Linked DNA regions of Homo sapiens. The protein of the gene in region 3 purifies or fractionates together with the protein of the main gene of each other region. This does not show direct contact. Each region holds a gene or a part of one and is shown on either strand. Other genes may lie near its edges. The genes, in order: GLUD1, POF1B and E2F6.

Region 1 (3,656 bases), on a different chromosome or scaffold from region 3:
ACCACCAGAAAAGCAAAAATGCCTCAGAACAACTCTTAATATTTATAAGTTAACACTCTTGCCACTTACTCATCAGATTATATTTTTTCACTTAATATTAATGTACCTTCTAACCCACAATAATGTAGCGTAACTTAATTTAAAATGAAGAGAGGAAGGTTAGAAGCAGGGAGGAACTCTCAATGACCACCCACAAGTAATGACCACCTGAAATACTACGTCTCAGATAAAAATTCAGACATTCAGCATGGGAAGGAGCACTGCATATAGGAGCTAAGAAAAAGTACACACTTTAGGCTGGGCGTGGTGGCTCACGCGTGTAATCCCAGCACTTTGGGAGGCTGAGGTGGGCAGATCATTTGAGGTAGGAGTTCGAGACCAGCCTGGCCAACATGATGAAACCCTGTCTCTACTAAACACACAACAAAATTAGCTGGGCGTGGTGGTGCACACCTGTAATCCCAGCTACTGGGGAGGCTGAGGCAGGAGAATCGCTTAAACCTGGGAGACCGAGGTTGCAATGAGTGGAGATTGCACCATTGCACTTCAGCCTGGGCGACAGAGAGTGAGACTCCGTCTCCAAAAAAAAAAAAAAAAACCAGAAAAATTATACTTTAATTGCTTTAGCAGCATCAATGTACTGTTTTGTATAAAGTAGGCAAATACCATCTTAGATTTTTAATCCAGTCTAAATCTTTTATTTTAACCTGAATAAATTTTGAAGAGGTAACTAAGCTTTCTGGGAAGCAAATGTTTAGCTGATATTAGAAAAATATAACCTATTGACACATCAAAGAAAAAACGGAAGAATACTTTTTTCATTAAAAATTTAAAATTATAACACATATGTATGTATTTCTATCAAAATTTAAATACAAAAAGAAAGCTGAAGACTCCCTTGACTTCCACTTATGACCCCAGTCTTCTCCTTAGGGGTGACTATTCTTAGCAATGTAAGTGTATATCCTTCCAAATCATGTTCCCTGCAATTATATATGTACATATCCATAAAACATACAGCTTTGTTTTGTGTTATTTAACTTACAGCCTGACAGATGGAAGATTATACATTAAAAGGGGGATTTTGTTAATTTTTCTTGGTAGATTCTTTTATTCTGATCTTGATTAACAGTAACTTAGCTGCACTTTCACACCAAACAGGTCTTGGAATCGGAAATGATGCTAGTTAAAATGGTGAATATAAAGTTGGATTTAGTAAAAGGTAACAATAACTTGTTATTAAAAAGTTTCAAAGGGATAAAGGCTTGAAACCTCAGCTATCCAGTTTCATATAAATTATTTACAAGTCTACGTGATAATTTGAGATGGGTCTTAAGAGAGGCAGAGGAATCCTAGGGAGGGGGAAGTGAGGCATGGACAGGCAGAGGGACTGCACTATTCAAGGGCATGATGGAGAGAAGTACGTGCCTGGATTTCCAATTTCCCTAAGGATAATTTTACACCAGATCTTCTTTATTTTAAAAATCCAATCCTTTTCCTTAATAACCCCATCTGTCCCTGATACCACCATTTTTTTCTACCAGTCTCTCAGGCTAGAAATTTTGTGGTTATCTTTGCCTCTTCTCTCCTTCATCCTGTAAATCCTACCTGTTGGGAATACATTACTGTCCTTTCTTCAAAATGTTTTATCTGTCTTTTCTTTTTCATTCTCTGCTATTAACTATAACTTCATTCTCAGTTCCACTGCTGCCTAGCTTTCTGTGCCCTGCTAGATTCATCATTATTCATCCAACAAACATAAAAGGAAAAAATTGGCCTGGCGCGGTGGCTCACGCCTGTAATCCCAGCACTTTGGGAGGCCGAGGCGGGCGGATCATGAGGTCAGGAGATCAAGACCATCCTGGCTAACATGGTGAAACCCCGTCTCCACTAAAAATACAAAAAAAAAAAAAAATTAGCCAGCGTGGCGGTGGGCGCCTGTAGTCCCAGCTACTCAGGAGGCTGAGGCAGGAGAATGGCATCAACCCAGGAGGCGGAGCTTGCAGTAAGCCAAGATCGCGCCACTGCACTCCAGCCTGGGAGACAGCGAGACTCCGTCTCAAAGAAAAAAAAAAAAAAAAAAAGGAAAAAATTGTTTTTTCTCACACATTTCTGACACCAAATGTGTGGGTTTTCCACACTAAGCAGTTCTCCAGTTCTCTGCAGATACAAACTGGGTGTCCTGCAATTCAGTTATGACACTGACTACCAGGGTTAGCACAGACCCCACAGCTCAAGGGCTCAGTCGCACAAGACTGTTCCCTACTTCAGATGCCAGTTCCAAGTCTTGGGTGCCCAGGGCACCCACACTTCTGTCCAACTTGGCTACCAACCAGGGGGTTCCCATGGCCCCCTCCTCAGGTTCAATAATGTTATAAAGGCTCACAGGACTCAGGGAAACGTTACTTATGTAAAGGATACAAATCAACAGCAACATGAAGAGGTACACAGGGCCATGTCTGGAATGTCCCCACTGCAGGAGCTTCTGTTCCCCTGGAATTTGGAGGGTACCACCCTACCCATACATGGATGCATTCACCAACCTGGAAGCTCTCTGAACTCTCCCCATACTCCAGCCATCAGTTAGGGTTTGTATAGAGGTTCCATTATGAGGGCATGACTGATTGCTGATTAAACTCAATCTTCAGCCCCTTTCCAATCTCCAGAGGTCAAAGGGTGGGACTGAAAGTTCCAAATTTCTAATTATGGCTTGGTCTTTTTGGTGACTAGTCCCCACCTTGAAGCTACCCAGAAGCCCATTAAGAGTGTCCTAGTTAGAACAAAAGATGCTCCTATCACTCAGGAATTTGCGACATTCAGGAGCTCTGTGTTGGGAACCAGGCAAAGAGACCAAATATATTTACTGTCACAAGCCCTTATTTCTCATTATTTACAAATGTAGTTTGTCCTCATGACCCCCTTACACACAGTTCCACTTCCTGCCTTGGGTGAAGCCACCCCCTCTTTATCTGAAATGGCCTTATCCAACTCCTATCCAGCCTTCTCTGTTCCCACATCAAGACTGTCTGTCTGCCAGGCACGGTGGCTCACGCCTGTAATCCCAGCACTTTAGGAGGCCGAGGTGGGCTGATCACATGAGGTCGGGAGTTCGAGACCAGCCTGACCAACATGGCAAAACCCTGTCTCTACTAAATATACAAAAATCAGCTAGGTGAGGTGGTGCATGCCTGTAATCCCAGCTACTTGGTAGGCTGAGGCAGGAAAATTGCTTGAACCTGGTAAGCAGAGGTTGTAGTGAGCCAAGATCGCGCCACTGTATGCCAGCCTGGGCAACAAGAGCAAAACTCTGTTTCAAAAAAAAAACAAACAAAAAAACAAATAAACAAACAAGATTGTCCTTGGTTTCCTTGAACTCCTACTGCAACAACACATGATTTACTTTGTTTTGTTTTTTTTTTTGTCATTTATTGACTGGTTCTAGGAAAGGAAAATGTAGAAATGGAATACTGAGCTTATAGCAAAACAAAAAAGACATAGGGTACAAAGGAGATTTGAATCTGCTCTACTTGGGAGAAATCAATGAAAAAAAATATTCCAAGAAATAAAAAAATTCAACTTTGTTTTTTTAAAAGAACCCTCTGCATAAAGTTCAGAGATCTTGCCTGCAGGAACAAAAAACACATAATAGAAAAATT
Region 2 (3,656 bases), on a different chromosome or scaffold from region 3:
CTGAAACTATCCCAAACAATAGTAAAAGAGAGACTCCCCCCTAACTCGTTTTATGAGGCCAGCATCATCCTGATACCAAAATCTGGCAGAGACAGAACAAAAAAGGAAAATTTCAGGCCAATATCCCTGATGAACGTCGATGCAAAAATCCTCAATAAAATACAGCAAACTGAATCCAGCAGCATATCAAAAAGCTTATCCACCATGATCAAGTCAGCTTCATCGCTGGAATGCAAGGCTGATTCAACATATGCAAATCAATAAACATAATCCATTACATAAACAGAATCAATGACAAAAACCACATGACTATCTCAATAAAGGCAGAAAAGGCCTTTGATAAAATTCAACACCGCTTCATGCTAAAAACTCTCAATAAACTAGGTATTGATGGGATGTATCTCAAAATAATAAGAGCTATTTACGACAAACCAACAGCCAATATCATACTGAATGGACAAAAGCTGGAAGCATTGTCTTTGAAAACCGGCACAAGACAAGGATGCCCTCTCTCACTACTCCTATTCAACATAGTATTGGAAGTTCTGGCCAGGGCAACAAGGCAAGTGAAAGAAATAAAGGGGATTCAAATAGCAAGAGAGGAAGTCAAATTGTCTCTGTTTGCAGACGACATGATTGTATATTTAGAAAACCCCATCGTCTCAACCCAAAATCTCCTTAAGCTGATAAGCAACTTCAGCAAAGTCTCAAGATACAAAATCAATGTGCAAAAGTCACAAACATTCCTATACATCAATAATAGACAAACAGAGGGCCAAATCTTGAGTGAACTCACATTCACAATTGCTACAAAGAGAATAAAATACCTAGGAATATAACTTATAAGGGATGTGAAGGACTTCTTCAAGGAGAGCTACAAACCACTGTTCAAGGAAATAAGAGAGGACACAAACAAATGGAAAAACATTCCATTGTTATGGATAGGAAGAATCGATATCTTGAAAATGGCCATACAGCTGAAAATAATTTATAGATTCAGTGCTAACCCCATCAAGCTACCATTGACTTTCTTCACAGAATTAGAAAAAATACTTTAAATTACATATGGAACCAAAAAAAGAGCCCATATATCCAAGACAATCCTAAGCCAAAAGAACAAAGCTGGAGGCATCATGCTACCTGACTTCAAACTATACTACAAGGCTTCAGTAACAAAAACAGCATGGTACCGGTACCAAAACAGAGAGATAGACCAATGGAACAGAACAGAGGCCTCAGAAATAATGCCACACATTTACAACTATTGGATCTTTGACAAACCTTACAAAAACAAGCAATGGGGAAAAGATTCCCTGTTTAATAAATAATGCTGGGAAAACTGGCTAGCCATATGCTGAAAACTGAAACTGGACCCCTTCCTTACACTTTATACAAAAATTAACTCAAGATGGATTAAAGACTTAAAGGTAAGACCTAAAACCATAAAAACTCTAGAAGAAAACCTAGGCAATACCATTCAGGACATAGGCATGGGGAAGACTTCATGACTAAAACACCAAAAGCAATAGCAACAAAAGCAAAAATTGACAAATGGGATCTAATTAAACTAAAGAGCTTCTGCACAGCAAAAGAAACTATTATCAGAGTGAACAGGCACCCTACAGAATGGGAGAAAATGTTTGCAATCTATCCATCTGACAAAGGGCTAATACCCAGAATCTACAAAGAATTTAAACAAATTTACAAGAATCAAACAAACAACCCCATCAAAAAGTGGCCAAAGGGTATGAACAGACATTTCTCAAAATAAGACATTAATGCAGCCAACAAACATGAAAAAATGCTCATCATCACTGGTCATTAGAGAAATGCAAATCAAAACCACAATGAGATACCATCTCACGTGAGTTAGAATGGCGATCATCAAAAAGTCAGGAAAAAACAGATGCTGGAGTGGATGTGGAGAAATAGGAACGCTTTTAGATTATTGGTGGGAGTGTAAATTAGTTCAACCAGTGTGGCGCTTCCTCAAGGATCTAGAACTAGAAATACCATTTGACTCAGCAATCCCATTACTGGGTATATACCCAAAGATTATAAATCATTCTACTATAAATACACATGCACACATATGTTTATTGCAGCACTATTCACAATAGCAAAGACTTGGAACCAACCCAAATTGCCCATCAATGATAGACTAGATAATGTGGGACATACGCACCATGGAATACTATGCAGCCATTAAAAAGGATGAGTTCATGTCCTTTGCAGGGACATGGATGAAGCTGGAAACCATCATTCGCAGCAAACTGACACAGAAACAGAAAACCACACACCTCATGTTCTCACTCATAAGTGGGAGTTGAACAGTGAGAACACATGGGAACATCACACACTGGGGCCTGTCAGGGGGTGGGGGGCTAGGGGAGGGATAGCATTAGGAGAAATACCTAATGTAGATAGATGACAGGTTGATGGGTGCAGGAAACCACCATGGCACGTGTATACCTATGTAACAAACCTGCACGTTCTGCACATGTATCCCAGAACTTAAAGTATAATAAAAAAAGAAAACTCTAGAAAAGAAGGAAAACTTATTGTATTTACCATATTTTTGCTTACAATGCTATATCTTCCTTCTTAATATTCCAAATTCTTTCTTTTATGATTTTCTTCTCTTTAGACAACTTCTTTTAGCTATTCTTTAAGGGTAGGTCTGCTAGTAACAAATTATTTTCATTTTCCCTCATCTGAAAATGTGAATTTCCCTCCATTCCTAAAGGATAATTTCACTGCATATAGAATTTACAGTTGACAATTATTTTCTTTTAGTACTTAAAAAATAGTATCCTAGTTCCTTCTGGGCTTCATGATTTGTAATGAGAAATCTGTTGTCATTTGAATTGTTATTCCCAATAATTAATGTTTTTCTTGCTGCTTTGAAAATTTTTAGTTTGTCTTTAGTTTTAAGAAGTTTGACTCTGATTTGTCTGGTAATGGATTTCTTTGGGTTTATATTGTTTGGGATATGCTCAGCTTCTTGAATATGTATGTTACCAGGTTTTACTAATTTGGGAAACTTCTCAGCCATAATTTTTTTGAATATTTTTTCAGCTCCATCCTCTTTCTCCTTTCCTTCCAGGACTCTGAACATGAAAGCTAGATATGTGGTGTACACCCACAAACCCTTAAGCTCTGTTTAATTTTTTCTAATCTATTTGTTTCTGATATTCAGATTATATACTTTATTTTATTCTATCTTTAAGTTCATTAATTCTTTCCTCTGTTCTCTCCATTCTGCTTTTTAGCCCACTCCTTGAGAGCTTTGTTGTTTTGGTTTGGTTTTTGTTTCTTTGTCTTGTTACTGTCCTTTTCAGTTCTAAAATTTCCATTTAGGTATTCTTTATGTCTTCTATTTATTTGCTGAGACTTTCTATTTTGTCATTGAGACAATGTGTTTTTACAGTCTCCTTGCAACTTCTTGTTGAAGTATTTATGATGGTTGTTTTATACACTTTATCAGATAATTCTAACATTTCTATTATCTTGATGTTGTCATCAATTAAGTGTTTTTTCTTATTGGTTGAGATTTTTGTTGTTCTTGGAATTATGAGTGATTTTCAATTGACCCTGAACATGTCTGATCTTGTTTGATCTCAGAAGCTAAGCAGGATTGAGCCTGGCTAGTACTT
Region 3 (3,656 bases):
CTCTAAGGGGTGGCAGCGGGTAAAGAAAATTGGTCTCTAAGTGGACCCACACAATTCAAACCTGTGTTGTTTGAGGGTCAGCTGTATATTGGTACCATCTGTATTGGTGGTCTTAATATTTGAGAACGTGATAAAAACTCTAAGCTCACTGTGGAAAAACCACTTAGTTTGCATGTAGTATCAGCAGATACATCCCTTGAAATCTTAGACATACAGTTCTGGTATTTTCAGTTACCATGTCATAATTCCCAAATCTATAAATCTCCTTCAGGGTTTTCCAGCTGTCTACTAGACCTTCCTACTTAGGTTTCAAACTCCTATTAGTCCCCTCTCATCTGAGGTTTCACTTTTCTTTATTTCAGTTAACCTGTGGTCCCCCAAACTATTAAAATGAAAATTCCAGAAATAATTCATTAGTTTTAAACTGCTTGCCATTCTCAGTAGTGTCATGAAATCTTGAGCTGTCCAGTACCACCCAGCACCTGAATCTTCCTTTGTCCAGAGTTCCCATGCTGTCACTGCGCCCTGCCCTTAGTCGCTTAGTAGCTGTTTCTTGATTCTCAGACCAACTGTCACGGTGCTTGTGTTAAGTAGCCCTTATTTTCTCAGTAATGGCCCCAAAGCACAAAAGTAGTGCTTCCAGTATGCTTCCAGTAGTGCTTCCAGTATGCTGAAGAGAATTGATGAAGTGCTTCCTTTAAGTGAAAAGATCTAAGTTCTTGACTTAGTAAGGAAAGAAAAAAAATCTTATTCTGAGGTCGCTAAGATCTACAGTATAAGATATTTTGAGAGAGAGACCACATTCACATAACTTTCATTGTAGTTTATTGCTATAATTGTTGTATTTTATTATTAGCTGTTAATCTCTTACTATGCCCGATCTATAAATTAAATGTTATCACATGTATGTATGTATACGAAAAAATAGTATATATAGAGATTGGTACTGTTTGCGGTTTTAGGCATCCACTGGGGGTCTTGGAATGTAGCTCCCAGGGATAAGGGTGGACTACTCTATATCCAGAATTGAATTTATTACTCTATTGGTCAGGGCTCTCCAGAGAGACAGACCAATACTAACACAGATTTTGGTACCAGGAATGGTTCTGGGAAACAGAATATTAAAGATGAGTTTCCTTAATTGGGGTTTTTGGAATTGATTCTTTAATCTGATTAGAATCTAAAAATGCCAAGAGCTCTACTTCTAATAGTAGAGAGAGCACTGGAAGTCCATGACACAAACTGTTTATAGATATGCAAAATAAATGCCTTTTTATTCTAATTCACTGCTTATAAGAGGCAAAGAATTTAGTGACGCTATATGTGATATTTTCAAATATTTTTGGGAAAACAAGGATTATAATGACATTGGTTGGTTGCTCCTATTGTCTTTGGACAAAGTGATGAAAGAAAAGGATGAGCTCAGGGATTCAGTTTCATGGCTGGAGTTCCACATAAATGACCTAAAAGTTTCTAAGTGTGCCCTGGGTTAGAATCTTCTATCCTGTAGCCATGGGGCTGAAATTGCTGAAAATCAAACACAAGCCTTCATCATGTAACTGGCCAAATTACAATGGAAGTTGAACTCTTGGCCAGTCATGGTGGCTCATGCCTGTAATCCCAGCACTTCGGGAGGCTGAGGCGGGTGGATCACCTGAGGTCCGGATTTCGAGACCAGCCTGGCTAATGTGGTGAAACCCCGTTTCTACTAAAAATACAAAAAATTAGCCAGGCTTGGTGACGTGCGCCTGTAATCCCAGCTACTCGGGAGGCTGAGGCAGAAGAATCACTTGAACCCAGGAGGTGGAGGTTGCAGTGAGCCGAGATTGTGCCACTGCACTCCAGCTTGGGCAACAAGAGTGAAACTCCATCACAAAAATAAATAAATAAATAAAATAGAAAGTTGAACTCTCTTAGCCTCACAGAGCATCTACTGTTAAAGTGAGGGTATTGGTTGGGAAAGAGTGGGGTCCTGCAAGTTTGGATGGGATCATGTGGGAAGATGAGGCTGGACACATTGAGCCCCTAAATTCTGATGAGTCTTGTTTGCCAGAGGGGCAGTAGCATTTCCACCTACAGTGGTATCATCCTTTCCACCCCTGTCTAAGGGGATTAATTCTGCATTGCCTGTGGAGATAGTAATGGCCTCCTCTGAAACAGTTCCCGGACAAGACAGTGCTGATTCTCATCAGGACCCACCCCGCCACCCCTCTTTGCTTCTAGACCTATTACTAGACCCAAGTCCCAGCAGACCCCTAAAGGTGAGGTGCAAAGTATGACTCACTCCACTTCTGGTACCAAATCTGTATTAGGTTTCTGGTCCTGTAAGATTATAGTGGAGCTGAAAAATTTCTATCACCTGGTGACATTGTAGCCATCATAATGGTCATAGCACCAAACATTACCTTTTCTATGTTTAGATGCACAAATACCATTCTGTTAGTTACCGTTATCTACAGTATTCAGTCAGTCACATGCTCTACAGGTTTGTGGCCTAGCAGCAATAGGCTATACTGTATAGCCTAGGTGTGTAGTGGGCTGTACCATCTAGGTTTGTTTAAGCACTCTATGATGTTCACGCAACAAAATCGCCTAATGACGATTCTGAGAAGATGCATGATTGCATGTAGATATATGAGAGGGAATTTATTAGGGAAATTGGCTCATGATTTTGGAGGCTGAGAAGCCCCACAATAGGCTGGCTGCAAGCTGGAGACCTTGGGATGCTGGTAGCATGGCTCAGTCCAAGTCCATAGCATGAGAACCTGGGAGGCTGCTAGTGTAACTCCTAGAGTCCAAAGGCCAGAGAATCTGAAGTTGTTGTCCAAGGACAAACGGGAAAGAGGGTCCCAGAGGATCTGGACTTCTGAGAAGGGAGAAAATAGCATTGATTGGAGGTAGAACTTGGTCTGCATAATTGAAAAATAAGGAAAATTTGAATGGGTGAGAATGCAATAACCTTTCCAAAGACCTCTTGAAGGAATATTGCTCCCCAAAACAGAATTGGTGTAGAGAAACATCTGTATAGAGAAAGGTTTAACCAGCTTGGAGGCAGTGCTTAGCATTTTAGTCCCTAAACTTCATCTTTTATTTTTTTTTCCACCTTTGAAGCAGCTCTTCAAAGCTACACAATAAAGTATAGGTCTTTAAATAGGGGACTTGGAGCAGTGGTGAAATAGCTTGGAATTTGAAAAAATATGCTGACTTGCCCCAGAAGATGCTGGTTCCTAGAGAGCTGTATACTCTGTCAGGGCACAAGATCAGCCTGAGTGATTTTCATTTTGTAAGCCTCTGACTTCTCCATTCATTTTGCAGCTAGCATGCAAACAATCTGCCTATTTATCATCTTTTTTTTTTTTGAGACGGAGTCTCGCACCGTCATCTGGGCTGGAGTGCAATGGCACGATCTCAGCTCACTGCAACCCCTGCCTCCCGGGTTCAAGCGATTCTCCTGCCTCAGCCTCCCAAGTAGCTTTTATTACAGGTGCCCACCACCACCCCCAGCTAATTTTTTGTATTTTTAGTAGAGACGGGGATTTCACTATGTTGGCCAGGCTGGTCTTGAACTCCTGACCTTGTGATCTCCTCCCCCCACCCCGCCTCCCAAAGTCCTGGGATTACAGGCATGAGCCACCGCGCCTGGACTTATGTTTCTA

Evidence for each region.
Region 1: the proteins of E2F6 (region 3) and GLUD1 purify together in Homo sapiens (affinity purification with mass spectrometry; one large-scale study listed by BioGRID and IntAct). This does not show direct contact.
Region 2: the proteins of E2F6 (region 3) and POF1B purify together in Homo sapiens (affinity purification with mass spectrometry; 2 studies listed by BioGRID and IntAct, with this or other methods). This does not show direct contact.

What each region holds. Positions count from the first base shown.
Region 1 is NC_000010.11:87,084,768-87,088,423, forward strand, and holds part of GLUD1 (glutamate dehydrogenase 1, mitochondrial isoform a precursor), read right to left. Parts: intron 1-3,656. UniProt on the Homo sapiens protein: Mitochondrial glutamate dehydrogenase that catalyzes the conversion of L-glutamate into alpha-ketoglutarate. Plays a key role in glutamine anaplerosis by producing alpha-ketoglutarate, an important intermediate in the tricarboxylic acid cycle.
Region 2 is NC_000023.11:85,310,086-85,313,741, reverse strand, and holds part of POF1B (protein POF1B), read left to right. Parts: intron 1-3,656. UniProt on the Homo sapiens protein: Plays a key role in the organization of epithelial monolayers by regulating the actin cytoskeleton. May be involved in ovary development.
Region 3 is NC_000002.12:11,459,587-11,463,242, reverse strand, and holds part of E2F6 (transcription factor E2F6), read left to right. Parts: intron 1-3,656. UniProt on the Homo sapiens protein: Inhibitor of E2F-dependent transcription. Binds DNA cooperatively with DP proteins through the E2 recognition site, 5'-TTTC[CG]CGC-3'. Has a preference for the 5'-TTTCCCGC-3' E2F recognition site.